Linked DNA regions of Homo sapiens: all the other regions are linked to region 4. The links come from fine-mapping of genetic effects on gene expression. A gene starts in region 4. Each other region holds a variant in brackets. All regions are shown on one strand. Distances are from middle to middle. Region 1 holds the start of LOC124904733 (a long non-coding RNA gene). Region 2 has its middle 3.2 kb from the start of C5AR1. Region 3 overlaps ZNF541 (zinc finger protein 541). Region 4 holds the start of KPTN (kaptin, actin binding protein). Region 5 holds the start of ZNF541 (zinc finger protein 541).

Region 1 (6,065 bases), 240 kb before region 4:
CTGTATCCCCAGAGCCTAGAGGAGTACCACATGCGATCGGCAACTGCTGAATGAATGTCACTGGGCCACTGCAGAGAATGTGGTCTGAAGGTTCAGGGCATCTTGGCGTCTATAGAATCAGACCCTCCCAAGATCTTGGCCTTACGTATCACAGCATCATAAAATCTCCCCTTCTAACAGCTATCACTTCAGCCAAAGGACTTAGAGCCAGAGGATTCGTCCACACCCTCCATCGTACAGATGGGAAACTGAGGCACTGGGAGGAGGGTGAATGCCTCCTCCCAGAGAGTCCAGGAAGGCCTGGTATCTTTGGAGGAGAGCATGAGGGGAGGTTAACAGTATGGCTATTGTTGGTGACGACCAAGTGTGGCGGACTCATATGTGAGGAGCAGGGGTGGGGGTGCGACACGGGGCAAAGGAGGGGCAGTGAGCCTTGGTCACAGCGGACCCTAAATCCCATGCTCCTGTGTCCTGAACGGCACTGGGGAGCCATGGATGAACCTGCAGGAAGAGGGGGAGGGAGTGCCTAATGGTCTGAAGGACCAATCAGGGCAGGGGTGTGGCCGGGCTGGGGGCGGGGCCTGTGAGAGCGGGCCAATGGAGCCAGGGGGCAGGGCCGAAGGGCGGCTCCGTAGGGACCAAAGGAGGGTAGGCGGGAGGGCGCTGATGGCTTTTCCAGAGAGGAAGCAGGGGAAGGTGCCAGGAAGAGATAAGGTGAGAGGGCGGGCTGGGCCGGGGCTGGGTCCCTGACTCCGGGGTTTGTCTGGGTTTCCGGAGCCGCCCCCAGCCCGGCGGGGGCACCAGGTGTCTGGCCCGGACCCACCCCTCTGTCCCTGGGCCTTGTGCTCCAGCTCCCGCCAAGGGACCCGCGGGAACGAACCTGGGGGAGTCTAAGCAAGACCAGGAGGAAGACAGAGAGAGGGCGGCGGCGGAGCGGGGGAGAGATGGAGAGACAGGAGGAGGCAGAGCGAGAAAGAAAAGGAAAGGGAGTTAGAATAAAAGAAAAAGTAAAAATGGAGAAGAAAGAGACTGAGAGAGAGGTAGAAAGGAGACTGACATAGAGACAGAAAAAGAGAGAGAGAGACACTGCAGAGCCGCCTGGGCAGAGGAGCGCAAGGTGAATTCCGAAGGTTCCAGGAGTGGCAGCCTGGTCCACAGTGGGCCGCTCCCTCCGAAGGAGGATTCCTGGGGTGGGGGTGGGGGCTCTGACTCACCCACTCTCGCTGCTCCTTAAACCAACACCTCAGGCTCCTCCACCCCCTAGAACCTTCTTGGCCTCCCTGCCTGCCCAGCTTCCTGCCCCGCCTCCACCCTGGCAGCCTCCCCCTGAGAAAGTTCCATCTGACATCCAAAATCGCTCTGAAACCCGCGCTCTCCTTTCTCCTCTCCCTCCCCAAGGCCTGTCCTGATCCAGGAACCTCCAAGCCTTTTGCCTGGTCTCCAGGCTCCTAGACTCTCCTGCCTTGAATCCACCCTCCAAAAGGTAGCTTGAGTCTAATTATCTCCTTTCCCTGCTCCGAACTTTTTCATGGCTCCCCAGTGCCCTAGGGACAAAGCACAGATTCCCGGACACAGCCCACACCACCTCTGATCTCAGCCACATCCTCAGCCTCTAATTGAGTTAGCACACTGTCTACACTGGGTTCAACACTGACATTTCCCCTCAGATGCCCTCTCCTCCAAAGAAGCCCTCTCTGCCTGCCCCAGCTACCCCGCCCCAGCTCTGACCACACTGGGTCATCGGTGCCTGGGGATGGATCTGTCTCCTCTCCAGGAGCCCCAGTGAGGACTGAGCCCTGGAACTGCCTTCATTATTTAGGACTGGGAGCCCCAGCAGGACAGGACTGGAACCATCGTGGTCACTGTTGTGTCTCCTGCACCACCCAACACCAGGCCAGGCATAGAGGAGATTTTGTTCAATGCAACTGTTTGTTCAATGTCATTCATTCAATAAATATTTACAGAGCACCAATTCTGTTCCGGGCACTGGGGATAAATCAGTGAAGGAATTCAAAGAGCCCTGATTGGCTGGGTGTGGTGGCTTACGCCTGTAATCCCAGCACTTTGGGAGGCCAAGGCGGGCGGATCACCTGAGGTCGGGAGTTCGAGACCAGCCTGACCAATATGGTGAAACCCCGTCTCCACTAAAAATACAAAAAATTAGCTGGGTGTGGTGGCACACGCCTGTAACCCCAGCTACTCAGGAGGCTGAGGCAGGAGAATCGCTTGAACCCGGGAGGTGGAGGTTGCAGTGAGCTGATATCGCACCACTGCACTCCAGCCTGGGCAACAGAGGGAGACCCTGTCTCAAAAAAAAAAAAAAAGAAAGAAAGAAAAAGAAAGAGAAAGAGAAAGAAAGAGAGAAAGAGAAACAGAGAAAGAGAGAAAGGAGAGGAGAGGAGAAGAAAGGAAAGGAAAGGACAACAGGGTTAGGGTAAAGAAGGACGCATATGGGGGAAGTTATATTCATTCAAAGGAGGGCATGGACAGCCTTCCTGAGAAGGGAGCATTTGAGCAGAGTCTTGAAAGGGGTGAGGAGGGAGTGAGCCTTGTGGATGGCCAGGTGGGAGGGGGAAGAAGGCAGAAGAGGTTTCCAGGAAGAGGGAGCAGCAAGTGCACAGGACTGAGGCCACCAGCGTGAAGTGCAGGGGACGCTGGGAAGGGAATGGGAGATGAGGACAGAGGAAAGGAGTGAGAGAAGGGGACAATCTGTGGCCACAATCAAACAAGAGTCATGGGAGACGGGTGCTGTGAAGCGCCTAAGATGTAATAAATTCATCTTTTTTTTTTTTTTTATTTTGAGACAGAGTCTCGTTCTGTCGCCTAGGCTGGAGTGCAGTGGTACAATCTCAGCTCACTGCAACCTCTGCCTCCCGGGTTCAAGTGATTCTCATGCCTCAGCCTCCCAAGTAGCTGGGATTACAGGTGCCCGCCACCACACCTGGCTAATTTTTGTATTTTTAGTAGAGACGCAGTTTCACCATCTTGACCAGGCTGGTCTCGAACTCCTGACCTCAAGTGATCTGCTCCCCCCTCGGCCTCCCAAAGTGTTGGGATTACAGGCGTGAGCCACCGCACCCAGCCTTCATTGTTATTTTATGTCTGTTTACTTATTCTGTCTCCCTCCATCAAAAGATAAGCCC[C/T]GGGGCTGGTCCAATGGTAGTGGGTTATCAGAACTTTTTTTTTTTTTTTTAATAGAAATGGTGTCTCACTATGTTGCCCAAGCTGGTCTTCAATGCCTGGGCTCAAGCAATCCTCCAAAAGTGTTGGGATTACAGGCGTGAGCCACCGCACCTGGCCTTGGTTATCAGAACTTATTAGTGTCAGTAAAGTTGGCATGCAACTCCCCACCCCCACTGCTAAATTTGACTAGCTTATAAATAAATTAATTAATTAAATTTAAAAAAAGATGAGCCCCAGGAGGGCTGGAACCTTGTCTGTTCCCTCCATCCCCAGCCCCAGCACCATGTGTACAGAAAGCATTCCAGAAATACTTGTGGGCCTGGCGCGGTGGCTCACGCCTATAATCCCAGCACTTTGGGAGGCCAAGGAGAGCGGATCACCTGAGGTTGAGAGTTCAAGACCAGCCTGACCAACTAAAAATACTCTACTAAAAATACACAATTAGCCGGGCATGGTGGTGAATGCCTGTAATCCCAGCTACTCGGGAGGCTGAGGCAGGAGAATCGCTTGAATTCAGGAGGCGGAGGTTGTGGTGAGCCGAGATCACGCCATTGCACTCCAGCCTGGGCAATAAGAGCAAAACTCCGTCTCAAAAAAAGAAAAGAAGAAGAAAAAGAAATATTTGTGGAATAAACCAATGAACTTGGAAACCTTTGAACCACAATCTTATAAATTATCAAAAAATAAAGAGGGTAGAATAATGAGTATTTGTCTGTCTATATTTTATAGGAAGTTCAAAAATTCAACATACTCATGCCTGCAATCCCAGCACTTTGGGAGGCCAAAAGGGGAGGATCACTTGAGGGCAGGAGTTCAAGACCAGCCTGGGCAACACAGTAAGACCTCGACTCTACAAAAAATAAAAAATTAGCTGGGCGTGGTGACACGTGCCTGTGGTCTCAGCTACTTGGGGCAGGCTAAGGAGGAAGGATCACTTGAGCCCAGGAGTTCAAGGCTGTGGTGAGCTGTGATTGCATCATTGCATTCCAGCCAGGGCAAGAGAGCGAGACTCCATCTCTTAAAAAAGAAGGAAGAAGAGGGAACGAAAGAGGATGTAAGGAAGGAGGAAGGGAGGAGGGAGGAAGGGAGAGAGGAACAGAGGAAGGAAGGAAGGAAGGAGGAAGGGGAGGAAGAAAGAGAAGAAGGAGGAGGAGGAGGGAGAAGAAGAGGAGGAGGAGGAAAGAGAGAAGAAAGAAGAAAAAGAGGAAGAAGAAGAAGAGAAGGAGGAGGAGGAGGAAGAGGAAGAAGAAATAGAAATACCAGGACAGAGAAGCCAGGGTGACACGGAGTTGACACAGAAATCCAAAGGCAGAGGAATGAGTCTCTCCATACAGTTCTTCCTCCCGGCTTCACTCTGTGCCAGAATGACCCAACTTCAAGAGAACTAACTAACCTGGGCCCTGATAAGTCAGGGACTCACAGCACTGGTAGGAGAGGACCGAGGAAACCTCCTCCAAGAATGCGCGCCCAGCCCTCAGGACTACTCACTCGCACCAGCCGGGCCCTCTTCACCAGGTCGTTGAGCTTGCGCAAGGCTGCGTGCCGGGGCAGGCCCTGGATGTCGCGGAAGAGGTCCTGCTCCTCCAGCTCGAAGAGGCGCCGGTTGTCGGGCACGAGGAGGGGCTGGGACCAGAAGGAGCCGATGTAGACGCGCAGCACCTCGGGCGTGCCCACCACCTTGCCCAGCGCCCACATGAGCGCGCCGTAGACGCGCATCAGCTGCTGCGTCTCCACCATGTCGGCCTTGTTGAGCACCACGCGGATCTTGTCCTCATGGCCCCGCAACGCGCCGATGGCCTCTGAGAACTCGTCCGAGATCTCCAGCTTGTGCGCATCAAAGAGCAGGATGATGAGGTCCACGCGCTCCGCGAACCAGCGCAGCACGGCCGGGAAGTCGTAGCCTGGAGTGGGAGTGGAGAGACAGGGGCGCAAGGGGCAGAAATCAGACCCCCACCCTCCAGCCATTCTCAGTAGTATCCCATTCTCTTGCATATTGGACTGTAAAGATGTTCACGTTGTTGGCTGTCCAAATCCTGTCTGGGCAAAATAGCCAAGGCCCTCAGTGGGCACTACTGCTCTGGCTCTCCAGTGCCCAGAATTTCCCCCCTCGCTCTGGCCCCAGCCCCTCAAGCCATCTGGCTACAGGGGGCAATCATCCCCCTTTTCCTTTGCTCGAGCACAATGGCGGGATCACGCCTCCCTGCAACCTCTGCTTCCCGGAGCTCAGGTGATCCTCCCACCTCAGCCTCCCTAGTAGCTGGGACTGCAGGCGCGCATCACCACACCTGGCTAATTTTTTTTTTTTTTTTTTTTTTTGAGTAGAGATGGGATCTCACTATGTTACCCGGGCTGCCGGGCTAGTCTCAAACTCCTGAGCTCAACTGATCCTCCTGCCTCAGCCTCCAAAATGTTGGGATTACAGGCGTGGGCCACCGCGCCCAGCCTCACGGCCTCCATTTTTTCATTTGCTCATTCATTAAGCAGTTATTACAGGTGTGCGTCGGTATGTACATATAGGTTGTTAAAAATACTGACATGTTTGCTAAGAGATCCCCCTGTGCTTCTATGGAACCCCCAAGCCTGCCACATGCCTCTATCACCCCAGCTCCTCCCCAGGACCTGTTGTATCTCCCCACGATCCAGCAACTAGAGTTCATGCTGGATAGCTGTGCTCTTGCCATAGCAGATGATAATTTTTTTTTTTTTTTTTTTTTTTTTTTTTTTTTTTTTTGAGACAGAGTCTCACTCTGTCGCCCAGGCTGGAGTGCAGTGGCATGAATGTGGCTCACTGCAACCTCCACCTCCACCTCCCAGGTTCAAGCAATTCTCCTGCCTCAGCCTCCCGAGTAGCTGGGATTACAGGCATGCACCACCACCCTGGC
Region 2 (6,058 bases), 180 kb after region 4:
TGCAGGCTCGGCCCCTCTCCTGGCCTTGGTTTCCCTATTTGGGGCCATCTCTTCTCTCTCATTTTTTTTTTTTTTTTTTTGATAGAGTCTTGCTGTGTCGCCCAGGCTGCAGTGGAGTGGTGCAATCTCGGCTCTCTGTAACCTCTGCCTCCTGGGTTCAAGCACTTCTCCTGCCTCAGCCTCCCGAGTAGCTGGGATTACACGTGTGTGTCACCACCCCCGGCTAATTTTTTGTATTTTTAGTAAAGACGGGGTTTCGCCATGTTGGCCAGGCTGGACTCAAACTCCTGAGCTCAGGCAATCACCCACCTCAACCTCCCAAAGTGCTAGAATTACAAGTGTGAGCCACTGCGCCCGGCCTGGAGCCATCTATCTCTTTCCTCCTAAGACGCCAGCCTTCTGGGCAAAAGCTCAGGAATGCAGTTGGCTTAAACCCCTCCCTTGGGATTCAAGAAAGCAGAGACTGTAACCTCCACTCAGCCTCCCGGCCAGGCTGATTTGAGACCCAAAGAGGCTGAGCTAGTCTGCGGAGGTAGCCCAGCATTTAAGTATATTTTACTGTTAAATCTTCCTTCTAGGGCCAGGTGCAATGGCTCACACCTATAATCCCAGCACTTTGGGAGGCTGAGGCAAATGAATCACTTGAGGTCAGGAGTTCAAGACGAGTCTGGCCAACATGGTGAAACCCTGTCTCTACTAAAAATACAAAAATTACCCAGGTGTGGTGGCAGGTGCCTGTAATCCCAGCTACTTGGGAAGCTGAGGCAGGAGAATTGCTTAAACCTGGGAGGCAGAGGTTGCAGTGAGCCAAGATTGCGCCACTGCACTCCAGCCTGGGCAACAAAGCAAGACTCTGTCTCAAAAAAAAAAAACCATCGTCACCAGCCTGGCCAATATGGTGAAACCCCATCTCTACTAAAAATACAAAAATTAGCCAGGCGTGGTGGTGGGTGCCTGTAATCTCAGCTACTCAGAAGGCTGAGGCAGGAGAATTGCTGGAACCCAGGAGGCGGAGGTTGCAGTGAGCAGAGATTGCACCATTGCACTCCAGCCCAGGCTGACAACACCAAGACTCAATCTCAAAAAAAAAAAAAAGAAAAGAAAAAGAAAAGAAAAGAAAAAAATCATCCTTCTAGGGTTATAAAGTTGGCAATAGAAAATGGAGCTACCCTGTCCCCCAACTACACAAGCCACAACCATCTCCATCTATTATTGTTACATTGTAATATATAATGAAATAATTATACAATTCAACATAATGTAGAATCAGTGGAATCCCTGAGCTTGTTTTCCTGTAACGAGATGGTCCTATCTGGGGGTGATGGGATACAGTGACAGATCATCAGGCATTAGATTCTCATAAGGAGCTTGCAACCCAGATCCCTCACATGCGCTGTTCACAACAGGGTTCATGCTCTTTTTTTTTTTTTTTTTTTTTTTGAGATGGAGTCTCACTCTCTCACCCAGGCTAGAGTGCAGTGGCACGATCTCGGCACACTGCAACCTCCGCCTCCCAGGTTCAAGCGATTCTCCTGCCTCAGCCTCCCGAGTAGCTGGGACTACAGGTGCCTACCACTGCACCCGGCTAATTTTTGTATTTTTAGTAGAGACGTGGTTTCACCATCTTGGCCAGGCTGATCTCGAACTCCTGACCTCGTGATCCACCCGCCTCAGCCTCCCAAAATGCTGGGATTACAGGCTTGAGCCACTGCGCCCGGCCTGGGTTCACGCTCTTATGAGAATGTAATTCCGCCCCTGATCTGACAGATCAGGCGGTAATATGAGCGAAGGGGCGTGGCTATAAATACAGATGAAGCTTCACTTACTCACCTGCCACTCACCTCCTGCGATGCTGCATGGTTCCTAGCAGGCCATGGACTGGTACAGGTCTGCAGCCCAGGGCT[G/A]GGGGCTAAGATACTTCCTAGAGCCTGGGGCAAGGAAGGAGCCTAGATTACCTTCCCGAGGCTGCTGTAACCAATTAGCACAAACTGCGGGCTTAACACCAGGACCGGGCGCAGTGGCTCATGCCTGCAATCCCAGCACTTTGGGAGGCTGAGGCGGGCAGATCATTGAGGTCAAGAGTTCAAGACCAGCCTGGCCAACATGGCAAAACCCCATCTCTACTAAAAATACATAAATTACCTGGGTGTGGTGGTGCATGCCTGTAGTCCCAGCTACTCGGGAGGCTGAGGCACAAGAATTACTTGAACCCGGGAGGTGGAGGTTGCAGTGAGCCAAGATGGCACCACTGCACTCCAGCCTGGGCGACAAAGCAAGACTCCACCTCAAGGAAAAAAAAAGAAAAAAAAAGCCAGACAATTATTTTGGCATGGTTCTGCAGGCCAGAAGTCCAAAATCAAGATGTCACCACTCCCTCCAGAGGTTCCAGGGGAGAATCTGTTCCTTGCCTCTCCCACCTTCAGGTGGCTCCTGAAATTCCTTGGCTTGTGGTTGCACCACGCCCGTCCCTGCCTCTGTGGTCTCATCACCTCCTCCTCTACCGTATGTCTCAAATTTCTATCTTCCTCATATAAGGACTCTTGTGATTCCACTGAGCCCACCCAGACCCAATCCAGGATAATCGCTCCCCCATCTAAAGATCTTTAACTTCATCCTATCTGCAAAGTCCCTTTTGCCATGGAAGGTCACCTGTTCACAGGTTCAGGGGATTAAGATGTGGACATCATTGGGGATCATGATTCTATCTGCAACAGGGTCTGAGAAGCTAGAGAGTAAGTGTGTCCAGTGGTGGAGAGAAGCCTTGAATGCCGAGCTAAGGAGCCTGGACATGGCCTTTCCTTCGAAATAGATGCATGACCTGTCAACCTCTCACCACCTCGGCTCTGTTACCCTGATCCAAATCACTATCACCTTCTGCTTGGACCATTACAGCAGCCTCCTCTCTGGGATCTTCACTGCCCCCCCTCCGTAGTCTCATCTCCACCAGCAACCAGAGGGAGCCTATTAAAATCTAAGTCAGATCAAAGCACTCCTCTGCTCAGAATAGGGGGTTGCCTGATTTAGCACACACACCTACACAAACAAAAACACATTACAGACTGCCCAGTTAACTTTAAATTTCAGGGTTGGGCCTGGTGCTTCATACCTGTAATCCCAGGGCATGGGGACACCGAGGAAAGATCGCTTGAGGCCAGGAGTTTGAGAGCAGCCTGGGCAACATAGTGAGATCCCATCTCAACAAAATAAATTAAAAATTAGCTGGGCATGGTGGCACGTGCCTGTGGTCCCAGCTACCTGGGAGGCTGAGGCAGGAGGATCACTTCAGCCCAGGAGATCAAGACTGCAGTGAGTTAAGATCACAAAAATATTTTTTTTTTCACATTTTACCTGAGAATCTTGTATTTTATCTGGTAACCACAGCTCAGAGCCCTCCCTTGGAGCCTACGGCACAATGAGTGTGATTGTTATGATGATTACAGAAACACACTCAATTTTTTTTTCCCATGTCCTTCTGCGACTCTACAAAACACCACCCACAACTTTCTCCCACAGTATTTTTCTACAGCAAACTTCAATTTTTAAAAATCTGGTTTTCGGCCGGGTGCGGTCCTCATGCCTGTAATCCCAGCACTTTGGGAAGCCGAGGCAGGCAGATCACCAGTTCAAGAGATTGAGACTATCCTGGCTAACATGGTGAAACCCCGTCTCTACTAAAAATACAAAAATTAGCTGGGCGTGGTGGCGGGCACTTGTAGTCCCAGCTACTCAGGAGGCTGAGGCAGGAGAATTGCTTGAACACGGGAGGCAGAGGTTGCAGTGAGCCGAGATCGCGCCACTGCACTCCAGCCTGGGGACAGAGCAACATTCTGCCTCAAAAAAAAAAAAAAAAAAATCTGGTTTTCTTTTAATTGCAAAGGAAATGCATGCTCATTGTAAATATTTAAACAATCCAGAAATACACTCCTCCCCACTCTAAAAATAGAAAAAAGAAAAAGACACCAATGAAAAGTCCCATTCCTGTCACGCTTCTGAATTCAGCTGGGAATTCACCTAGACTTTTACAAAGGTGGAGTTTGTGTTTGGCCATGGACACGCGGGTACACGATGTTCAGCAAGTTTTAGTTCCGCTAATTGAAGCCATGTGCGCAGTCTGCGTTACTCACCCAGGATTTCCAAGGTCGATTTGTGGCGATTTGGAGCATTATAGGAATGCCGTGTTGTTCTAGCCCTGACCTCCAGGGGGCGCAGGAGCGGGGAGGTTCAGGAAGCCAGGTCACAGGAACTTGACTTTTAGGATTTTGGATGGAAGTTGCCTCCTCAGCCGTAAATCATGGGTTCTTAACATTTTTAGGCCCGGGACCCTTGATAAAGGTGTCCTTGATAAAACACCCCCTCAGAAGAAAAAGAATTTTTTTAACTTTTTATTTCGATGGAATGTCAAATGAAAAAAGTTGCAAGAATAGTAAAAGCGGCCGGGTGCGTTGGCTCCCGCCTGTAATCCCAGCACTTTGGGAAGCCGAGGAGGGAAGATCACTTGAGGTAAAGAGTTCGAGACCAGGCTGACCAACATTGTGAAACCCCGTCTTTAATAAAAATACAAAAAAGTAGCTGGGAATGGTGGCAGGCACCTGTAGTCCCAGCTACTTGGGAGGCTGAGGCAGGAGAATCACTTGAACTCAGGAGGAAGAGGTTGCAGTGAACCGAGATCATACCACTGCACTCCAGCCTGGGCGACAAAGTGAGACTCTGCCTCAAAAAAAAAAAAAAAGAAAGAAAGAAAAAGAAAGCAATTGGGGCCAGAAGCAATGGCTCATGCCTGTAATCCTAGCATTTTGGGAGGCCATGGTGGGAAGATCACTGGAGTCCAGGAGTTCCAGACCAGCCTAAGTAACATAGTGAAACCCCCATCTCTACAAAACACAAAAAATTATCCAGGTGTGGTGGAGCACACCTATAGTCCTAGCTACTTAGGAGGCAGAGGCAGGAGGATCACCTGAGCCCAGGAGGTCGAGGCTGCAGTGACCTATGATTGTGCCACTGCACTGCAACCTGGACAAAAGAGCAAGACCCTGTCTCGAAAAAAAAAAAAAAAAAAAGACAGAGGCCGGGCACGGTGGCTGACGCCTGTAATCCCAGCACTTTGGGAGGCTAAGGCGGGTGGATCACCTGAAAGTCAGGAGTTCAAGACCAGCCTGGCCAACATGGTGAAACCCCATCTCTACTAAGAATACAAAAAATTAGCCAGGTGTGGTGGTGGGCACCTGTAATCCCAGCTACTTGGGAGGCTGAGGGAGAAGAATCACTTGAACTCGGGAGGTGGAGGTTGCAGTCAGCCGAGATCGTGCCATTGCACTCCAGCCTTGAGTGACAAGGGCGAAACTTTGTCACACACACACAGAAAAAAAGAAATTGGCTCATGCAATTGTGGGGGCTGGTAAACCCTAGAAAAATAATACAGGCGTATATATCTATGTCTACTTATGTTTTTCCTGGAATCATTTGAGAGTACTTTGGAAACATCATGCTCCTTTACCATAAATTTGTTACTGTGTATCTCTTATATTGCGGTTATGACAGGATATTCTCTGACATAACCACAATATATTTATCAAAATAAGGAAATATGCCACTGATACCACACTATACTCAGCCCTCACTGAAATTTCACCAGTTGTTCCAATAACTTTTTTTTTTTTTTCTGAGACAGAGTCTCAATTTGTCGCCCAGGCTGGAGTCCAGTGGCACAATCTCGGCTCACTGCAACCTCCGCCACTCAAGTTCAAGAGATTCTCCTGCCTCAGTCTCCCAAGTAGCTTGGATTATAGGCGCCCAGCCACCACGCCCGGCTAATTTTTTTTTTTTTTTTTTGAGATGGAGTCTCACTCTGTTGCCCAGGCTGGAGTACAGTGGCGTGATCTCGGCTCACTGCAAGCTCCGCCTCCCAGGTTCACGCCATTCTCCTGCCTCAGCCTCCCGAGTAACTGGGACTACAGGCGCCCGCCACCATGCCCAGCTAATATTTTGTATTTTTTTTTTTTTAGTAGAGACAGGGTTTCACCGTGTTAGCCAGGACGGTCTTGATCTCCTGACCTCGTGA
Region 3 (6,065 bases), 61 kb before region 4:
CGGGTTCAAGTGATTCTCCTGCCTCAGCCTCCTGAGTAGCTAGGATTACAAGCGCCCGCCACCACACCCAGCTAATTTTTGTATTATTTTTAGTAGAGACAGGGTTTCACCATGTTGGCCAGGCTGATCTTGAACTCCTGACCTCAAGTGATCCTCCCGCCTTGGCCTCCCAAAGTTCTGGGATTACAGGTGTGAGCCACCGTGCCCAGCCCACTCCGTTCTTCTCACACCATCAGAGCGCAGGGAAGAGAGTGGGCGCTGCTGTCCCAGCCCCTAAATTCACGCCTGTGAGGAAGCCCCTGCTTCTGTTTGCAGATGGGCTGCTTGTGGGTTAAAAACGCCTAACAGCTGGCTTCTGAGTCAATTGTGTCATGGGAGGAGTTGGGCTAACTTTATAGAGCTATGTCCTGAGTCTCTGGTAGGTGTCTGAGGAAAACGGATCTGTGTTCTCTGTGTTTTGGGATAGCACGAGACAGGAAAGATGAGACGCCTGCTTCTAGAACATGGCAATGGAGAATTAACCCTTGTTTTTCTTTTTTTTTCTTTTTTTTTTTTTTTTTTTGAGATGGAGTCTTGCTCTGTCACCCAGGCTGGAGTGCAGTGGCACGATCTCGGCTCACTACAACCTTCACCTCCCAGGTTCAAGCGATTCTCCTGCCTCAGCCTCCAGAGCAGCTGGGACTACAGGCGCATGCCACCCCGCCCAGCTAATTTTTGTATTTTTAGTAGAGATGGGGTTTCACCATATTGGCCAGGCTGGTCTCAAACTCCTGACCTTGTGATCCACCTGCCTCAGCCTCCCAAAGTGCTGGGATTACAAGCGTGAGCCACCGCACCCGGCCCCAGCTTTGTTTTTCTTTTCTATTTTTTTTTTTGTTTTTTTTTCTTTTTTAAAAAACTCATTCTTTTCCTTTTAACTTTTGACTTAAAAAGTGTCAGGAGCAAAATTTCCTTTTTTTTTTTTTTTGGACAGTCTTGCTCTGTCACTCAGGCTGGAGTGCAGAGGTGTGATCTCAGCTCACTGCAAGCCTCTGCCTCCTGGGTTCAAGTGATTTTCCTGCCTCCTCATCTTGAGTAGCTAGGACTACAGGCATGCACTATCATGCCTGGCTAATTTTTGTATTTTTAGTAGAGACAGGATTTCTCAAGTGATCTGCGTGACTCGGCCTCCCCAAAGTGCTGGGATTACAGGTGTGAGCCACCGCTTAATGTCTTGGAAATGATAAGCTTGTCTTGCCTGTGGGGGAAAGAAAGACACATGTTTTTCAAACCAGGAGACCTGCAAGTGGGAGATGAAAGTACTTAGCATTCTTATGGGGCTCCTCCCTTTCACAAGGGGCTTTGACTAATCCATCTTTCATCTTATCCTCTCACCCACACCTACCCCAGGAAAAGGAGCCAATTTGCTCATGTCACAAGTTGGTAATAGCTGGGGGTAGAACTTAGGTCTCCTGATTCCCTCTCTGTTGCTTCCCTCAGACAGAGGCTGAGGGTGAGCCTTTGGGGAAAGACTTTATGATTTAGTCCACATCGACTAGGACTGTCCAGAGCAGGGCTGTTGGGGGCCCAGAGGGTGATGTACTCCTCTGCTTATATTTATAATGTGTTAATGCAGAGGTAGGTGTGATGCAATACATATTTACATGCATTTCTGTTTGCAGAAACTATAGGCACATTTGGCTGTTTGGCTCTATAATGTTTCTATGGATTGGGCCTCTGTAAATTGGCTTCTTTGCTGTGGGGGGTTCCAGGTAGCATCTTCTTAGGGGTCTCCTACGGTAAGGCACAGATTCCTTTGTTAAAGGAAGGATCGTCCCCAAGTTAGCATCTCCTCCAGTCTATTCTGCAGAATTCTGGTTCTCAGGAATGCTAATAGGGGCTTTTTGAAAACAAAACCAAAAACAGTTCTCTGGGCAAATAAGTTTGAGAGACACTGAAAGTTAAACAGGTCTCTCTCTGTGTGGCTTTTACATTTGCTACTGTGTGCCGGCTACAGTGGCTCACGCCTGTAATCTCAGCACTTTGGGAGGCCAAGGCAGGCAGATCACTTGAGGGTCAGGAGTTCGAGACCAGCTTGGCCAACAAGGCAAAACCCCGTCTCTACTAAAAATACAAAAATTAGCTGGGCGTGGTGGCACGCACCTGTAGTCCCAGCTACTTGGAGGCTGAGGCACAAGAATCGCTTGAACCTGGGGGGCAGAGTTGCAGTGAGCCGAGATCGTGCCATTGCACTCCAGCCTGGGTGACAGAGCAAGACTCCGTCTCAAAAACAAAAAATTAATTAATTAAATTTGCTACTGTGCATCGTGAACCTCCAAGGAGTGAATGGTGTTTTTTCAAAACTTATTTATTAGCTGTGCCAAAGTCCTTGAGGAGCAACTCTGGAGGTCTTTGTGTTCCTTGGGAACCCACTCTGGGGAAATCTGATCTGGCCTCAGTGGATTTTTTTTTTTGTATTTTTTAAAATTTTATTTATTTGTTTGTTTGTTTATTGAGATAGAGTCTCACTCTGTCACCCAGGCTGGAGTGCAGTGGTGTGATCTCGGCTCACTGCAATGCACTTCATCTCCTGGGTACAAGTGATTCTCTTGCCTCAGCTTCCCCAGTAGCTGGGATTACTGGCATGTGCCACTACACCCAGCTAAATTTTTTGTATTTTTAGTAGAGACGGGTTTTACCATGTTGGCCAGGCTGGTCTCAAACTCCTGACCTCAAGTGATCCACTCACCTCGGCCTCCCAAAGTGCTGGGATTACAGGCATGAGCCACTGTGCCCCGCTGGTTTTTTTTTTTTTTTTTACTTTTCTGTAAGGGGTTTGCTTAAAGGTGAGGGGAGAGGAACTCCCCTGCCAGATGGCTTTGACCGAAGCAGGGTTTGCTGGGTGGTCTTTCCTCGTGGGGGCTGAGTACAATTTCTGAATTGTGGTGCAACTGTACCACAGACTTTTGGGGGCCACCAGGGTCCTACAGCAGAAAGCCCGGTCCCAGGTGCCCCGGTGACGCCCCTGCTTGTGTCTGGCTCCAGGACCGGGCACATGCTCACCCACCAGAAGACAAAGCCCTTCGTGTGCATCGAGCAGGGCTGCAGCAAGAGCTACTGCGACTACCGCTCTCTGCGCCGGCACTACGAGGTCCATCACGGCCTGTGCATC[C/T]TGAAGGAAGCCCCCCCGGAGGAAGAGGCCTGCGGGGACTCCCCCCACGCCCACGAGTCGGCCGGCCAGCCGCCCCCCAGCAGCCTGCGGTCCCTGGTGCCCCCAGAGGCCAGGTCCCCCGGCTCCCTCCTGCCCCACCGGGACCTCCTGCGCCGCATCGTGAGTAGCATCGTCCACCAGAAGACCCCTTCTCCTGGCCCAGCCCCGGCGGGGGCTTCAGACAGCGAAGGGAGGAACACTGCCTGTCCCTGCCCCGCCTCATCGGGGTCCTCGTCCTGCACCCCAGCCGGCCCCCACGCGGCCCCAGCAGCGCTGGACACCGAGCTTCCCGAGGAGCCTTGCCTCCCACAGAAAGAGCCGGCCACTGACGTGTTCACAGCCCCTAATTCCAGGGCCGCCGAGAACGGCGCCCCCGACCCGCCAGAGCCGGAGCCAGATACCGCGCTGCTCCAGGCCCGGTCCACCGCGGAGTGCTGGCCCGAAGGCGGCTCCGTGCCTGCCTGCCTGCCTCTCTTCCGAGGCCAGACGGTCCCTGCCAGTTCCCAGCCATCGAGCCACAGCTTCCAGTGGCTCCGGAACCTGCCGGGCTGTCCCAAAAGCAAAGGCAACAACGTGTTTGTTGTCCACAAGCCCTCGGCCGTGCCCTCGCGGGAGGGCTCCGAGTCTGGCCCGGGACCCAGCAGCGGAAGCCCCTCGGAGGAGTCCCCGCCCGGCCCCGGCGGTGGCCTGGAGGATGCTCTGCCCTTCCCTGCCGCGCTCCTCAGGGTCCCCGCGGAGGCCCCGAGCGACCCCAGGTCGGCCAGCGGGGAAGATGACCCCTGCGCCCCCAAGAAGGTCAAGGTCGACTGCGACTCCTTCCTGTGCCAGAACCCCGGGGAGCCCGGCCTCCAGGAGGCCCAGAAGGCAGGCGGGCTCCCTGCGGATGCCTCGCCGCTCTTCCGCCAGCTCTTCCTCAAGTCGCAGGAACCTCTTGTGAGCCACGAGCAGATGCAGGTGTTCCAGATGATCACCAAGTCCCAGCGGATCTTCTCCCATGCCCAGGTGGCAGCAGTCTCCTCCCAGCTCCCTGCGCCCGAGGGCAAACCAGCCGCCCTGAGGCCGCTGCAGGGGCCGTGGCCGCAGCAGCCCCCACCACTGGCTCCTGCTGTGGACTCTCTCCACGCCGGCCCTGGAAACCCCGAGGCAGAGGGCTCCCCAGCCCGCAGGAGAAAAACCACACCCGGGGTTCCCAGAGAGGCCTCCCCCGGCAGCACGAGACGAGACGCAAAGGGGGGACTGAAAGTGGCCGCGGTTCCAACGCCCCTTGCAGCACCGTCTCTGGACCCTTCCAGGAATCCAGACATCTCTTCTCTGGCCAAGCAGCTGCGATCCTCTAAAGGGACCTTGGACCTGGAGGACATCTTCCCCTCCACAGGCCAACGGCAGACCCAGTTAGGTGGGGAGGAGCCACCAGGAGCCTCGCTGCCAGGGAAGCAGGCCCCAGCCGAGAATGGCGCGGCTTCAAGGATCACAAAAGGTGAAAAGGGCCCAGCCTGCTCCCGGGGTGGAGGCTACCGGCTCTTGGGCAACCCCAGGGCCCCGCGATTCTCCGGCTTCCGGAAAGAGAAGGCGAAGATGGATATGTGCTGTGCGGCTTCTCCGAGCCAGGTAGCCATGGCCTCCTTCTCATCGGCCGGGCCCCCGGCAGATCCCTCCAAGTCCAAGCTGACAATATTCAGCAGAATCCAGGTACCAGCTCTCTCTCACGTGGCCTGACCAGAGTGGAGTGAGTTTCCTTTGCATTTGTTAGTTGTCCAGGCATTTTATTTCATTTCAGAGAGTCCCCAGATGCAATTTTACAGAGGAAGGAATTAAGGTTCCGAAAGATTGTGGTTTTCCCCACTAAAAAAAAAAAGACCAGAATGAGGCCAGGTGAGGTGGCTTATGCCTGTAATCCCAGCCCTTTGGGATGGGAGGCTGAAGTGGGGAGACTGCTTGAGCTCAGGAGTTCGAGATCAGCCTAGGCAACATGGCGAAACCCAGTCTCTACCAAAATTTTAAAAAAGTAGCTGGGCGTGGTGGCACACGCCTGTGGTCCCAGCTACTCGAGAGGCTGAGGTGGGGGAGAATCGCTTGAACCTGGAAGATGGAGGTTTCAGTGAGCTGAGATTGTGTCTCTGCACTCCAGCCTGGGCAACAGAGCAAGACCCTGTCTTAAAAAAAAAAAAAAAGATCAACATGAGGATATCCCAGAGTTGTTCAAAACACTGTTATCTCACAAAGCCTTTTTTGCTTTTTTTTTTCTCTTGTTTCCCTTTGGATTTGCCTTTTTAGAATCTTCAGAGGATATGAAGGTAGATGCTCTCTTTCCTTTAAAGATTCCTGCTTGAAATGGCCATGTGTTTTCTGATTGTGAGTCTTGGTTTCCACAAGCACAAGTGGGCACCTGCATCGTGCCCCACACTTAAGCACATTGATAATTATTCACTGGTTCCTCCAGATGTTGTGTTTGGAGGGCCTGGTCCAAAGAGCTCATCCAGGTCTCCTGACTCCATGTCCAACCTGGGCAACATGGCGAAACCCTGTCTCTACCAAAATTTAAAAAAAATTAGTTGGGCATGGTGGTGCACGCCTGTGGTCCCAGCTACTCAGGAGGATGAGTAGCTTCCCATCATACCACAGCTACCTCATTTTTGTTTTGTTAACATCTTTATTATTCAGGTGCCAAATAATGCACCATTTTATTTTTTATATATTTTTTAGAGATGGAGGGGGTCTCGCTATGTTGCCCAGCCTGGTCTTGAACCCCTGGGCTCAAGCAATCCTCTCATCTCGGCCTCCTAAAGTGTTGGGATTACAGGCATGAGCCACCATGCCCAGCCAAATCCACCACTTTATTTTATTTTTTAAATTTATTTTATTTATTTATTTATGA
Region 4 (5,972 bases):
CTCAGGTTAGACCCTGGGCCCTGGAGCTTAGGGGATTCTCCCCACCCCAGCCCCACACCTGCTCCTTCCCTAATGCTTTGAGGTTTTCTTGGTTGGAAGCTGCAGCTGGCCCAAGAAAGAAAATAAAAAACAACACTTTTGCATGAGTCTCTCTTCCTCCTCACCTCTGCTACCCACTCTGCCCCTGGGCCAGTCACCAGTCCCTCTCACACTCCTGGTCCCCCAGACTCTGGGCGAGCTCTTGGGAGGTCAGGCGCATGCATCCTTGAAACACGTGTGGGCTGGGTCAGTTTCTAGGTGGGGGAGACCCAGGGACGGTGGGCCTGGGGAGGAGCTCTGGCTTGGGAGTCCCAGAGCGCCCATCTTGATCTTTCTCTGGGTTCTTGGGGTCCAGGGGCCTTGATTTCCTCAACTGGGATGCACGGTGGTGATGCCACCCCTCAGAGCCAGTGGGAGGGTCGAATGTGACGGTCCTCATGACTGCTTTGGATGAGAATGGGTGGAAGCCCACCGAATCTCCCATGTCCACATTTCTCTGGCAGGAAGGCTGAACGCCCCGGTGACAGTTGTTCCATCTGTCACAGGACGGGGGAGGAAGCGGCTTTGGTGGGCAGAGTCTGAGGCCCGAGTGGGTCTGGGGAGTGGGGGAGGAGATAGCAGGAGCCTTTGCCCAGGAAAGGTGGGCAGAAACCAGCTGCCTCCACCACACTCCACAATGTGCATGTTGGGGGCCCTGTCTGGTACACATGTGCTTTACCCTGCCCCGCGCAGGGCCCCTCGCTACAGAGGAGACAGCTGAAGGAGGCTCAGTGCCCAGGCATGATGGGAAAATGTCAGGAAGTGAGCAGGGGCAGTAATTGCACAGAGGAGGGGCTGCCTAGGAAACCAGGGTGGACTCCTGGGAGAGGGGCTCCAGCCCAGAAAGCCTAGAGAAGTGCAGGTGAGGTTCAAATTCCTTGACACCTGCCCTGCTCCTCTCTCCCCTGCAGCTTCTCCCACAGCTCCAGTCCACTGATAATGGCAGCAAAGACTTCTGAGACCTGAAATTGATTACCATGTCTGCCCCCATCATGGGTGCTGGCTGAAGGATAGTGTGAGAATCTGTTTCTGTCATCCATGACCTAAATCAGTGATGGTCCGCCCTGGCTATGCTTTAAAGTCATTAAAAGTATCCAGACTTGGGGCTGGGTGCTGTGGCTCATGCCTGTAATCGTAGCACTTTGGGAGGCCGAGGCAGGCGGATCACTTGAGGTCAAGAGTTCGAGAGCAGCCTAGCCAACATGGCAAAACCCTGTCTCTGCTAGAAATACAAAAATTAGGCATGATGGTGCAAAAATAAAAGTATCCAGACTGGGGCCGCACTCTGATAAATTGTGGTTTGACTGAGGTTTCCTACCCTTTGGGGGTTTTTGGGTTTGTTTTTTTTTTGAGACAGAGTCTCGCTCTATCGCCCAGGCTGGAGTGCAGTGGTGCGATCTTGGTTCACTGCAACCTCTGCCTCCCGGGTTCAAGCGATTCTCCTGCCTCAGTCTCCCGAGTAGCTGGGATTACAAGCGTGCGCCACCACGCCCAGCTAATTTTTGTATTTTTAGCAGAGACAGCGTTTCACCATGTTGGCCAGGCTGGTCTCAAACTCCTGACCTCAGTTGATCCGCCTGCCTCAGCTTCCAAAGTTCTGGAATTACAGGCATGAGCCACCAGGCCCGGCCTGTTTTGGTTTGTTTTGTTAAAACTTCATAGGCAGTTCAAGTGTGCAGCTAGGATTGGAAACCTCTTAACAGGATGATTCCTTCCTAACCTGTAACTTCATTTTTTCATTCATCCGCTCAACATGTGGCTTATAGGTTACTAGGGCGGGAAGACGCCTGAAGGAAACGCACTGCTGAAGTGGCACTAGACCCACGTGCCACTCCCTCAGCGAATATTCACTAAGCACCTGCTGCATGCCAGGCCCTGGGAATACAGCAGCACTGACGGCATTCCCAGACTGCCCTCCAGGAACTTCTACTCTCCACATCCAGAAATCTGGAATCATCACAAATTCCTTGCCACCTCCGTTATCCAGTCTGCCTTTGAGAACTTTCCATCATGTAAGAGCTGTCTCTTACATGCTCAGCACATAGTTTGTGATTTTTGACACATATTTTCTGAATGCCTGCTTTGTGTCAGGCCTTGTGTTCCAGGTACAGGCGATAAGGCCGTGATCAAGGGAGATCAGCCTGCTGCCTTCATGGAGCTTGCAGTCTGTGTGTGCTCGAGGTGTCCAGGACAGCTGGCCAACCCATGTCTTCTGGAAATGATACACAGATGTGCACATAGTACCCAAACCTCCATGGCCTTCTAGGGACAAAGCAGCACAGACAGGAACCCCTGAAGGCCCCAGAGTCGGAAACACCTGGTTTACATCCTGTCCCCACCACTTGCTAGCATATCAGTCAGTGGACTTACTCTTTCTGAGCCTCCATTTGATTCTCTCTAAACTGGGATAATAAACCTCTTTGTAGAGGTTTCTTTCTTGCAAAGATTAGTGAGACAGATTTGCAAAGGACGTCCGGGCACATAGTAAAAGCTCAATGAATCCTGAATAAGTGAACCGGCAGGGAGGGTAACAGTAGGCCCTTGCAGAACAGTTGTAAGGAATCAGATTATCAGAGCCAGCATGACTGTCACCAAGTAGGTGTTCGATAAAGGAGGTGGTTATTATAGCTGGATCATTTTTCCTTGGGGGCAAGAAGAATGTATTAATTATTTTAAAGGTGATACTGTTAAGATTATGAACTATAGGCCGGGCAAGGGGGCTCACGCCTATAATCCTAGCACTTTGGGAGGCCGAGGTGGGCGGATCACCTGAGGTCAGGAGGTCCAGACCAGCCTGGGCAACATGGCGAAACCCCATCTCTACTAAAAATAGAAAAACTAGCCAGGTGTGGTGGCGCCTGTAATCCCAGCTGCTGGGAGGCTGAGGCAGGAGAATCGCTTGAACCCAGGAGGCAGAGGTTGCAGTGAGCCGAGATCGCACCACTGCACTCCAGGGTGACAGAGCAAGACTCCGTCTCAAAAAAAAAAAAAAAAAAAATAGTGAACTGTGGAGTTACCTTGTTTGGTTTCCAGTACTGACCGCTCGTTACTAGCTGTGTGATCTTAGGCAAGTTACTTTACCCCTCTGTGCCTCAATTCCTTCATCTCTAAAATGGATTTAAGTACCTACCTCCACCCCCTTGCGAATTTTTAATAAAGTATTAGATGGAATGCACTTACAGTAGTTCCTGGCACATAAGGGCAATATTAAGTTTTATGATGATGATGATTCGACCTTCCACACAGCATACAGCGAGAGGCCGTGGCCACCACCTCCCATCTCTAGTCACAGACTCCTTATGGCAGCCCCTTGGTCCAGAAATGGAAAGGAGAAGAGAGCGCGGGCGCAGTGGGGCAAAGTCGCCTGGGAGGCCCGAGCAGGCGACCTGGCCGCCATCTTGGGAGAGGGCAACGCCGGCAGCTTCCGTACGTCATCAGCCCGCGCAACGGCCGGGCACCCGGCGGTTCAGGTCGCTTAGAGAGTCGTAGGTTGGGTAGTGCGGGTTGGGGCGGGGGCTGCGGAGAGGGTGCTTAACTGAGGGGCATGATGGGGGAGGCGGCCGTGGCCGCGGGGCCTTGTCCGTTGCGCGAGGACAGCTTCACGCGCTTCTCGTCGCAGAGCAATGTGTACGGGCTGGCAGGCGGCGCCGGCGGGCGCGGGGAGCTGCTGGCCGCCACCCTTAAAGGCAAGGTGCTCGGCTTCCGCTACCAAGACCTCCGACAGAAAATCCGGCCAGTGGCCAAGGAGCTGCAGTTCAACTACATTCCCGGTGGGTGGCGCTATGGTGCTGGGGGGCGGGGGCCTGGAACGTGGTGTTGAGAAGGCTTCTGAGGCTCTGTCTGAGCCGGGTCACCGTGCTGGAAGAATGGGATCAGGTGGTTTTAAGGGGGTCACTGGGATCAGCGGGCAGGCATAGTTGGGGCCCGGATGAGCCTAGGGTTTCAGGATTCTTCAGACTTACAGGTCAGGATCCCTAGTACCCAGGGAACAGAGATCAGGTGATGGTGGTCAGGACTCAGACCAGAGGGCATGATCATTGCGGTAGCCAGAGCTCACCATGTTGGGGAGATTGGAAGCATGAGTCTGCCTGACACTGAACTTAGAACTCTCCCCTCCCAGTGGATGCGGAGATTGTCTCCATCGACACTTTCAACAAGTCACCCCCCAAGCGGGGTCTGGTTGTGGGGATCACGTTCATCAAGGTACCTAGAGCCCCCTCCACCTCCCTTCGCCCTCCTCCTTACACACATGGTGAGTTCCACTGAGCCGCCCCGGATCCCTCCTGCCACCCCTGCCCTCCCCTGAACCCCGTGTCCTCCGCCAGGATTCAGGGGACAAGGGCAGCCCCTTCCTGAACATTTACTGCGACTACGAGCCCGGCTCTGAGTACAACCTTGACTCTATTGCCCGTGAGTGAGGCGTGGACGGGAGGAGGGAGAGAGTCCCCAGCAGGTCCCCCATGCTAACCTGCCTGTGCCCTGCCTACAGAGAGCTGCCTGAACCTGGAGCTCCAGTTCACTCCGTTCCAGCTGTGCCATGCGGAGTGAGTGTCCCCTGCGCATCGACGCCCACTCCACTGTAAATGTAGAAACCCTGGCTTCTCGAACCCCTTCTTTACTTACAGACCCCTGTAGTCTGTTTCCCCTTCTGGAAAATAAAGAGGTTGTACTAGATTAGGGATTGAAAACTAAAATGCCAGCCGGGCACGGTGGCTCACACCTGTAATCCCAGCACTTTGAGAGGCTGAGGCAGACGGATCACCTGAGGTCAGGAGTTTGAGACCAGCCTGGCCAACATGGCGAAACCCCGTCTCTACTAAAAATACAAAAATTAGCTGGGCATGGTGGTGTGTGCCTGTAATCCCAGCCTACTCAGGAGGCTGAGGCAGGAGAATCACTTGAACCCGGGAGGCGGAGGTTGCAGTGAGCCAAGATTGCACCACAGCACTCCAACCTGGGTGACAAGAGCGAAACTCTGTCTCAAAAATAAATAAATAAAATAAAATGAAATTAAACTAAAATGCCTTTGGGGACCAGAGAGGTCATGTGAGAATGGAAAGCACAAATGTAATATAACAGGGAGCACATGTGCACACACACATATGCAGCTGAGGTTGGAAAGCTGTAGCTAACTGGAGACCACGAACTTGTCCATAGACAATCAGATTCTACATTTGTTTTTTAAAGCATTGCACTTTTTTTTTCTTTCTTTTTTTTTTTTTTTGAGATAGATGCTCGCTCTGTTGCCAGGCTGGAGTGCAGTGGCTCGATCTCTGCAACCTCTACCTCCCTGGTTCAAGTGATTCTACTGCCTCAGCCTCCTGAGTAGCTAGGATTACAGGCTCACACCACCATGCCCGGCTAATTTTTGTATTTTTAGTATAGATAGGTTTTTGCCATGTTGGCCAGGCTAGTCTCGAACTCCTGACCTCAGGTGATCCGCCCGCCTTGGCCTCCCAAAGTGCTGGGATTACAGGCGTGAGCCACCACGCCTGGCCGGAGCATCATGCTTTTAAGGTGGCCATGGACCGGATGGCCAAGGGGCCACCACACTGCCATTCCTGAACTAGATAATCTGAGAGAGTTGATGGAGCACCTGTGAATTCTGGGAATTCTGCACATCTAGAATTCCCAGATTCTAATGTTCTAGAGTCTGACATTCCAAGATCAGAGATGCTAAGTTTTCTAGAGTCGTAGGCTCTAAGATTCCAACATTTGAATATTCTACAGTACGATAGAAGCCAGAATCTTCTGAGGTTCTGTAATGATAAAGTCCTGACATTCTCATCTTTCGAGGAGATAGAACATAGAGCATCTAGAATACCAAGGTGCTAGAACCCCAAAGTGTGTGGGTTCCATTCTAGAGTTCCAGATTCCATTCCAGAACACAGATG
Region 5 (6,065 bases), 91 kb before region 4:
GCGACAGAGCGAGACTCTGTCTCAAAAAAAAAAAAAAACCCCAAAAAGTGGATACATTACTATTAACTAAATTCCAATCTTTGTTGAGATTTTTTCTTTTTTTTTTTTGAGACAGTCTTGCTCTGTTAACCAGATAGGAATGCAGTCCTGAGCTAAAGCAATCCTCTCGCCTTAGCCTGTGGAGTAGCTGGGACCACAGGTGTGTGCTACTATGCTTGGGTAACTTTTAAAATTTTTTCGTAGAGACAGGATCTCACCAAGTTGCCCAGGGTGGTCTTGAACTCCTGAGCTCAAGTGATCCTCCTGCCTTGGGGTCCCAAAGTGCTGGAATTACAGATGCCTGGCCTTTGTTGGAGATTTCTCTAGTTTTTTAAGTAATGTCTTTTTTTTTTTTTTTAGATGAAGTCACTGTCACTCTGTTTCCCAGGCTGGAGTGCAGTGGCACCATCTCAGCTCACTGACAGCAACTTCCACCTCCCAAATTCAAGCGATTCTCCTGCCTCAGCCTCCTAAGCCTTAGCTGGATTACAGGTGCCTACCACCATGCCCAGCTAATTTTTATATTTTTAGTAGAGATGGGGTTTCACCATGTTGACCAGGATGGTCTCAAATTCTCGACCTCAAGTTATCCACCTGCCTCGGCCTCCCACAGGGCTGGGATTACAGGCGTGAGCCACCATGCCTGGCCTATTTATTTATTTATTTATTTATCTTGTTCCAGGATTATTCAATCCAGAATCCAGGATCCAATCTGTTTCTTTCCTTTCTTTTCTGTTCTTTTTTTTGCTATTACAAACATTGCTGCTTGTTCTTCTGTTGCATCTCTTGGCGCACATGATCAAGAAGTTTTCTAGAGTTAACCCCTGGGTTTGTCAGTGTGGTTCTACCAATTTTACCTGTCACTAGTCCTGTATACTCAGTTCGTCTTGCTTCAGCAAACAGAAAAAAAAAAATGTTTTTTGATTCACCGAAGTGGTAGGTGTGCTGCGGTATCTTTGGTTTTAATTTGCATTCTCTTGTTGTTGTGGTTAGTCCTCACTTCATGTTTCCTCTTGTATGAAGTGCCTCTTCAAATCTTATATTCTTTTTTTTTATTAGGTTGTCACCTTAATTTGTAGGCCTTTAAAATAAATGCTAAATGCTTTTTTTTATTTGAGACAGAGTCTCGCTCTGTTGCCCAGCCTGGAGTGCAATGGTGCGATCTCGGCTCACTGCAGACTCAACCTCCCAGGTTCAAGCAATTCTCCTGTCTCAACTTCCTGCGTAGCTGGGATTACAGGCACGCACCAGCACACCTGGCTAAGTTTTGTATTTTTAGTGGAGATGGACGTTTCACCATGTTGGCCAGGCTGGTCTCGAACTCCTGACCTCAGGTGATCCACCTGCCTTGGCCTCCCAAAGTGCTGGGATTACAAGCATGCTTGGCTAATGCTAATTTTTTGTTTATGTGTTGCATTTATCTTCTGTGTCCATGAAGTGTTCAATGTCTATCAATGACAGAAGATGCTAATTTATTTCAGGAGCTTAAGTCCTGTTTTTTAACTAGATTCTCATCTGTCCAGTGGCTAGGATCCTTATTTCCTCCATCAAGAAGAGAGATTACATGGCTGAAACAAAGCATTTTTAAAATGTGTGCTAAATAAGCGAAAAAAAAAAAGAAAACAAGAAAAAGAAAAGAAGGCCAGGCACAGTGGCTCTCACCTGTAATCCTAGCACTTTGGGAGCTGAGGCGGGTGGATCACGAGGTCAGGAGATGGAGACCATCCTGGCTAACATGGTGGAACCCCGTCTCTACTAAAAATACAAAAAATTAGCTGGGCGTGGTGGCACGAGCCTGTAATCCCAGGTACTTAGAAGGCTGAGGCAGGAGAATCACTTGAACCCAGGAGACAGAGGTTGCATTGAGCCGAGATGGTGCCACTGCACTCCAGCCTGGGTTACAGAGCGCGACTCTGTCTCAAAAGAAAAAAAAGAAGAAAAAGAAAAAAGAAAAAAAGAAAGAAAATAAAAGAAACAAACAAAAAACCCCACAAAACAAAAAGTGTGCTAAATAAAGGAAGAACCCTCTGAAATTGTTTCCAGGAGTTTAATTCCTGCCTTAGCATGACCTGTAAGTCCCTATGCCATCTGCCCCTAGTTTCTTCACTCACGTGGTTCTGGCCACACTGGTCTCTCTTCTTCTGATTTTTTTTTTTTTTTTGAGACAGAGTCTCACTCTGTTACCAAGGATGGAGCACAATGGCGTGATCTCGGCTCACTGCAACCGCTGCCTCCCAGGTTCAAGAGATTCTCATGCCTCAGCCTCC[C/T]GAGTAGCTGGGACTACAGGTGTGCACCACCATGCCCAGATAATTTTTTGTATTTTTAGTAGAGATGGGGTTTCAACATGTTGGCCAGGCTGGTCTCGAACTCCTGGGCTCAAGTGATCAGCCTACCTGGGCCCCCCAAATTGCTGGGATTACAAGCATAAGCCACCATGCCTGGCCTCTCTGCTGTCTTTCAAAAGGGTTCCACATCTTCCTGCCTCAGTGCCTGTGCACGTGCTGTTCCCTCTCTTCTTCCCCCAGATATTTTCATAGGACCCTTCCTTACTTCCTTCAGATCTCTGCTCAATGCAATCTCACCAGAGAAGCCTTTACTGACCTGTATAAAACAATACCCTCTGACCCCATCCTCTTTCCTTTGTTTTTCTTCAAGGTATAACATACTGCATTATAAATGTATTTGCAGCCAGGCACGGTGGCTCACTCCTGTAATCCCAGCATGTTGGGAGGCCAAGGCAGGAAGACTGCTTGAGCCTAGGAGTTCAAAACCAGCCTGGCCAACATGGCAAAACCCTGTCTCTACTAAAAATACAAAAAATTAGCTGGGTGTGGTGGTGCAGGCCTGTAGTACCAGCTACTCAGGAGGCTGAGGTGGTATAATAGCTTGGGCCCAGGAAGTCAAGGATGCAGCGAGGCATGATTACAACAATGCACTTCAGCCTAGGTGACATAGTGAGACCCTGTATCAAAAAAATACAACAAAAAAAGTAAATGCATTTGCTTGTCCCCCTGTAGAGGTATGCTGTCAGTACCAGAGCCACTCGCTACAAGGTTCCATGGAGCCCTGGAAATGTGGCTGGTCTGAATTGAGATGTCCCGTGAATGTAAAATACTGTATATGTGGGGTTTTAAAGACAGCCCCAAAAGTGTAAATTATCTCTTAGTTTTTATACTGATAATGTGTTGAAATATTTGGGATTAAATATTACCAAATTAATTTCACTTGTGTTTCTTTCTCTTTTATTTTATTATTTACTTTTATTTATTTGATTTTTAGGTTTGGGTGTGTTGCCCAGGCTGGTCTTGACCTCCTGAACTCAAGCAATCCTCCTGCCTCAGCCTCTCAAAGTGTTGAGATTACAGGTGTGAACCACCACACCCGTCCCAAGCCATTTTTTTTTTTTTTTAAGAGAATGGGTCCCACTATGTTGCCCAGGCTGGTGCAGTGGCTCTACACAGACAGGGCCATAGCTCACTGCAGTCTCCAACTCTTGGGTTCAAGTGATCCTCCTGTCTCAGCCTCACAAGTAGCTGGGCTACAAGTGCCAGCCGCCACACCTGCCTTCTTTACATTTTGTTCCTTTTAAACATGGCTACTAGAAAATGTAAAATTACATAAGTGGCTGGTGCTTGAAGTTTGCATTTTATTACTACTGAACAGCACTGCTCTAAAACATAAGTTCCAGGAGGAGAGGAATGTCTGTTTGACCCAGACACTATATCTGAGCACCTAGAACAGAGACCCAATAAAAACTTGCTAAATGAAGGGATCCTAAAGCAAGATGACAGGCCCTCTTCTTTCCTCTGTTTCCTCCCCCAATAATCAATTAAAAAAAAAAAAAACTTTGAGGTATAATTTACATAAAAGTCACTCACTTAAGTGTATACTTACTGATTTTTAGAAATTTACTGAGTTGTGCAACCATCACCATAACCCTTTTTTTCCCCCATCAGAGTCTCGCTCTATCCCCCAGTCTGGGGTGCAATGGCCTGATCATATAGCTCACTGCAGCCTTGGACTCCCAGGCTCAAGCGATCCTCCTGCCTCAGCCTCCCAAGTAGCTGGGACTACAGGCGCATGCCACCATCTCCAGTTAATTTTTTTTTTTTTTTTTTTTTAGAGACAGGGTTTCACTAGGTTGCCCAGGTTGGTCTCAAACTCCTAGGCTCAAGGGATCCTCCTACCTTGGCCTCCCAAAGAGCTGGGATTACAGGCGTGAGCCACCACGCCTGGCCCATAGCTCAGTTTTAGAATATTTCCATTACCCAGATAAGATCCGCGATGCCCCTTTCCACCCCGGGCAACCACTAATCTGCTCTCATTCTCCACAGATCTTCAGCACTCCGTTTCTAAGGAATGAATTATCTGCCTCAGTTGCAGGACAGTTCAAACCCCTTGGCCAGGTCGGGCACGGTGGCTCAGGTCTGTAATCCCAGCACTTTGGGAGGCAGAAGCAGGCGGATCACCTGATCACCCGAGGTCAGGAATTTAAGACCAGCCTGGCCAACATGGTGAAACCCCGTCTCTACTGAAAATACAACAAATTAGCCGGGCGTGGTGGCACGTGCCTGTAATCCCAGCTACTCGGGAGGCTGAGACAGGAGAATCGCTTTAACCCGGGAGGCGGAGATTGCAGTGAGCCGAGATCGCACCACTGAACTCCAGCCTGGGCGGCAGAACAAGACCCTGTCTCAAAAAAAAAAAAAAAGAAAAAAAAGATGGTCCTTGGCCAGTCGGCACCAGGGCCTACCGCCCTTCCCAACACAGCTCAGCACGGAGCAGGGGCCCCAGATGGCTCAGCCTTTCCCCAAAGAAGGGAGGAATAGGCTGGGCGCGGTGGCTCTCACCTATAATCCCAATGCTTTGGGAGACTGAGGCAGGAGGATCGCTTGAGCCCAGGGGAACCAGGCTAGCCTGGGCAACATGGCGAGACCTTATCTCTAAAAAAAATGTAAAAATTAGCAAGGTGTGGCGGCGCCCGCCTGTGGTCGCTGCTACTCAAGAGACTGAGGCAGGAGGATCGCCTGAGCCCAGGAAGGGGAGGGTGCGGCAGCCGTGATCGCAGCCTGGGGAACAGGGAGAGACCCTGTCTCTGAAAAAAATTTTAAAAAAAGGGAGGAGCAGCTCGCCCCACATCTCCCCCACCCAATGACGCAGAAGAGACCCTGAGAGACTCCCGCGCTCGCGACAGGGTCCTCGGAAACAGACGATACGGCCTCCCAGCACCAGGACGCTGCTCAGAGGCCCCTCCGGGGACTGGGGGCAGCCATCCAGCGGCCGCCACCGCGTTCTAACACCGCCCACCAGGAACAATGGCTGGAGTGGAGGCTCCCGGGACTCTCGGCCTCGGGATGCGGGTCTTGGGGGACTGGCCCCTCCCCCCGCCGCTCCTCCCCGGCTCACTCTTCTCACTCTCCGCCCTCAACCGCCCCCTCCCAAAATGGCGACCAACCGCCTCCTTTCCCGCCCGCGGCAAGCCCCGCCCCTCGGAGAAGCAGCCGAGAGCGCGCGGCCAGGAGGCACGCGCGAGGCCGCTCTGGGAGGCGTGAGGCGGCCCGCGGTCACGTACGCGCGCCTGCGCCGCGCGTGAGCGAGGAGATCCGGGGGTGGGCCGGGCTGCGCGTGCGCCCCGGGCGGCGCGGGGAAGGCGGGAGGCCGCTGGGAGCCCCGCGAGGCGCCAGGCGCGAGGCCCGGCGCGCGAGCCCCCGGGGGCGGGTAAAACCCGGTTGCTGCTGCCCCTGCCCCTCCCTTTCCTCCTTATCCCCCATTACTATTATTTCCTCTTTTTTCAACCCCTCCCCCTTTTTACAATCTCATTCGTTTCTTGATTTCTTTTTTTAGGGGGCCCCATCTGCCTTTCGAGGGGCGCAGCAGGCGCGGCGGGCGCCCCTCACCCTGCGTCACGCACGCATCTTCTGCAACCCAACAGCTCCGGGCCCCGCTGCACCCCACAGGCCCTTCCCCCTTGGAGAAGACCCTCCTCAGGATCCCCTGGCCCGCTGCACCCCCTTTTCTTTCCCACT

Evidence for each region. PIP is the estimated chance that this variant, and not a neighbour inherited with it, causes the effect.
Region 1: its variant is fine-mapped to the expression of KPTN in whole blood (TOPMed, PIP above 0.99).
Region 2: its variant is fine-mapped to the expression of KPTN in tibial artery (GTEx, PIP 0.95).
Region 3: its variant is fine-mapped to the expression of KPTN in whole blood (TOPMed, PIP above 0.99). The same link has a PIP of 0.9 or more in fibroblasts, lung, sun-exposed skin and thyroid.
Region 5: its variant is fine-mapped to the expression of KPTN in testis (GTEx, PIP 0.95).

What each region holds. Positions count from the first base shown.
Region 1 is chr19:47,724,831-47,730,895 of GRCh38, reverse strand. EHD2 (EH domain containing 2) reads right to left here. Exons shown (of 6, transcript NM_014601.4): 4 at 4,672-5,084. LOC124904733 (a long non-coding RNA gene) reads left to right here and starts at 1,385. Exons shown (of 2, transcript XR_007067279.1): 1 at 1,385-1,483; 2 at 1,775-1,972. RefSeq lists an enhancer at 4,632-5,398. The variant C/T (reference allele first, on the strand shown) is at 3,144.
Region 2 is chr19:47,303,595-47,309,652 of GRCh38, reverse strand. It overlaps a transcript of C5AR1 not described here. Among named protein-coding and RNA genes, the nearest start is that of C5AR1, 3.2 kb to the left of the region's middle. The variant G/A (reference allele first, on the strand shown) is at 1,905.
Region 3 is chr19:47,542,940-47,549,004 of GRCh38, reverse strand. It overlaps ZNF541 (zinc finger protein 541), which reads left to right. Exons shown (of 17, transcript NM_001277075.3): 5 at 3,025-4,879. Among named protein-coding and RNA genes, the nearest start is that of ZNF541, 27 kb to the left of the region's middle. The variant C/T (reference allele first, on the strand shown) is at 3,152.
Region 4 is chr19:47,481,811-47,487,782 of GRCh38, reverse strand. It overlaps KPTN (kaptin, actin binding protein), which reads left to right and starts at 3,564. Exons shown (of 12, transcript NM_007059.4): 1 at 3,564-3,848; 2 at 4,199-4,281; 3 at 4,404-4,488; 4 at 4,568-4,622. The coding sequence starts at 3,623. It overlaps NAPA-AS1 (NAPA antisense RNA 1), which reads right to left and starts at 3,501. Exons shown (of 4, transcript NR_038452.1): 1 at 3,259-3,501. It overlaps NAPA (NSF attachment protein alpha), which reads left to right. Exons shown (of 11, transcript NM_003827.4): 11 at 1-146. RefSeq lists enhancers at 3,190-3,319, 3,350-3,639.
Region 5 is chr19:47,572,775-47,578,839 of GRCh38, reverse strand. It overlaps ZNF541 (zinc finger protein 541), which reads left to right and starts at 5,692. Exons shown (of 17, transcript NM_001277075.3): 1 at 5,692-5,757. RefSeq lists an enhancer at 886-965. The variant C/T (reference allele first, on the strand shown) is at 2,307.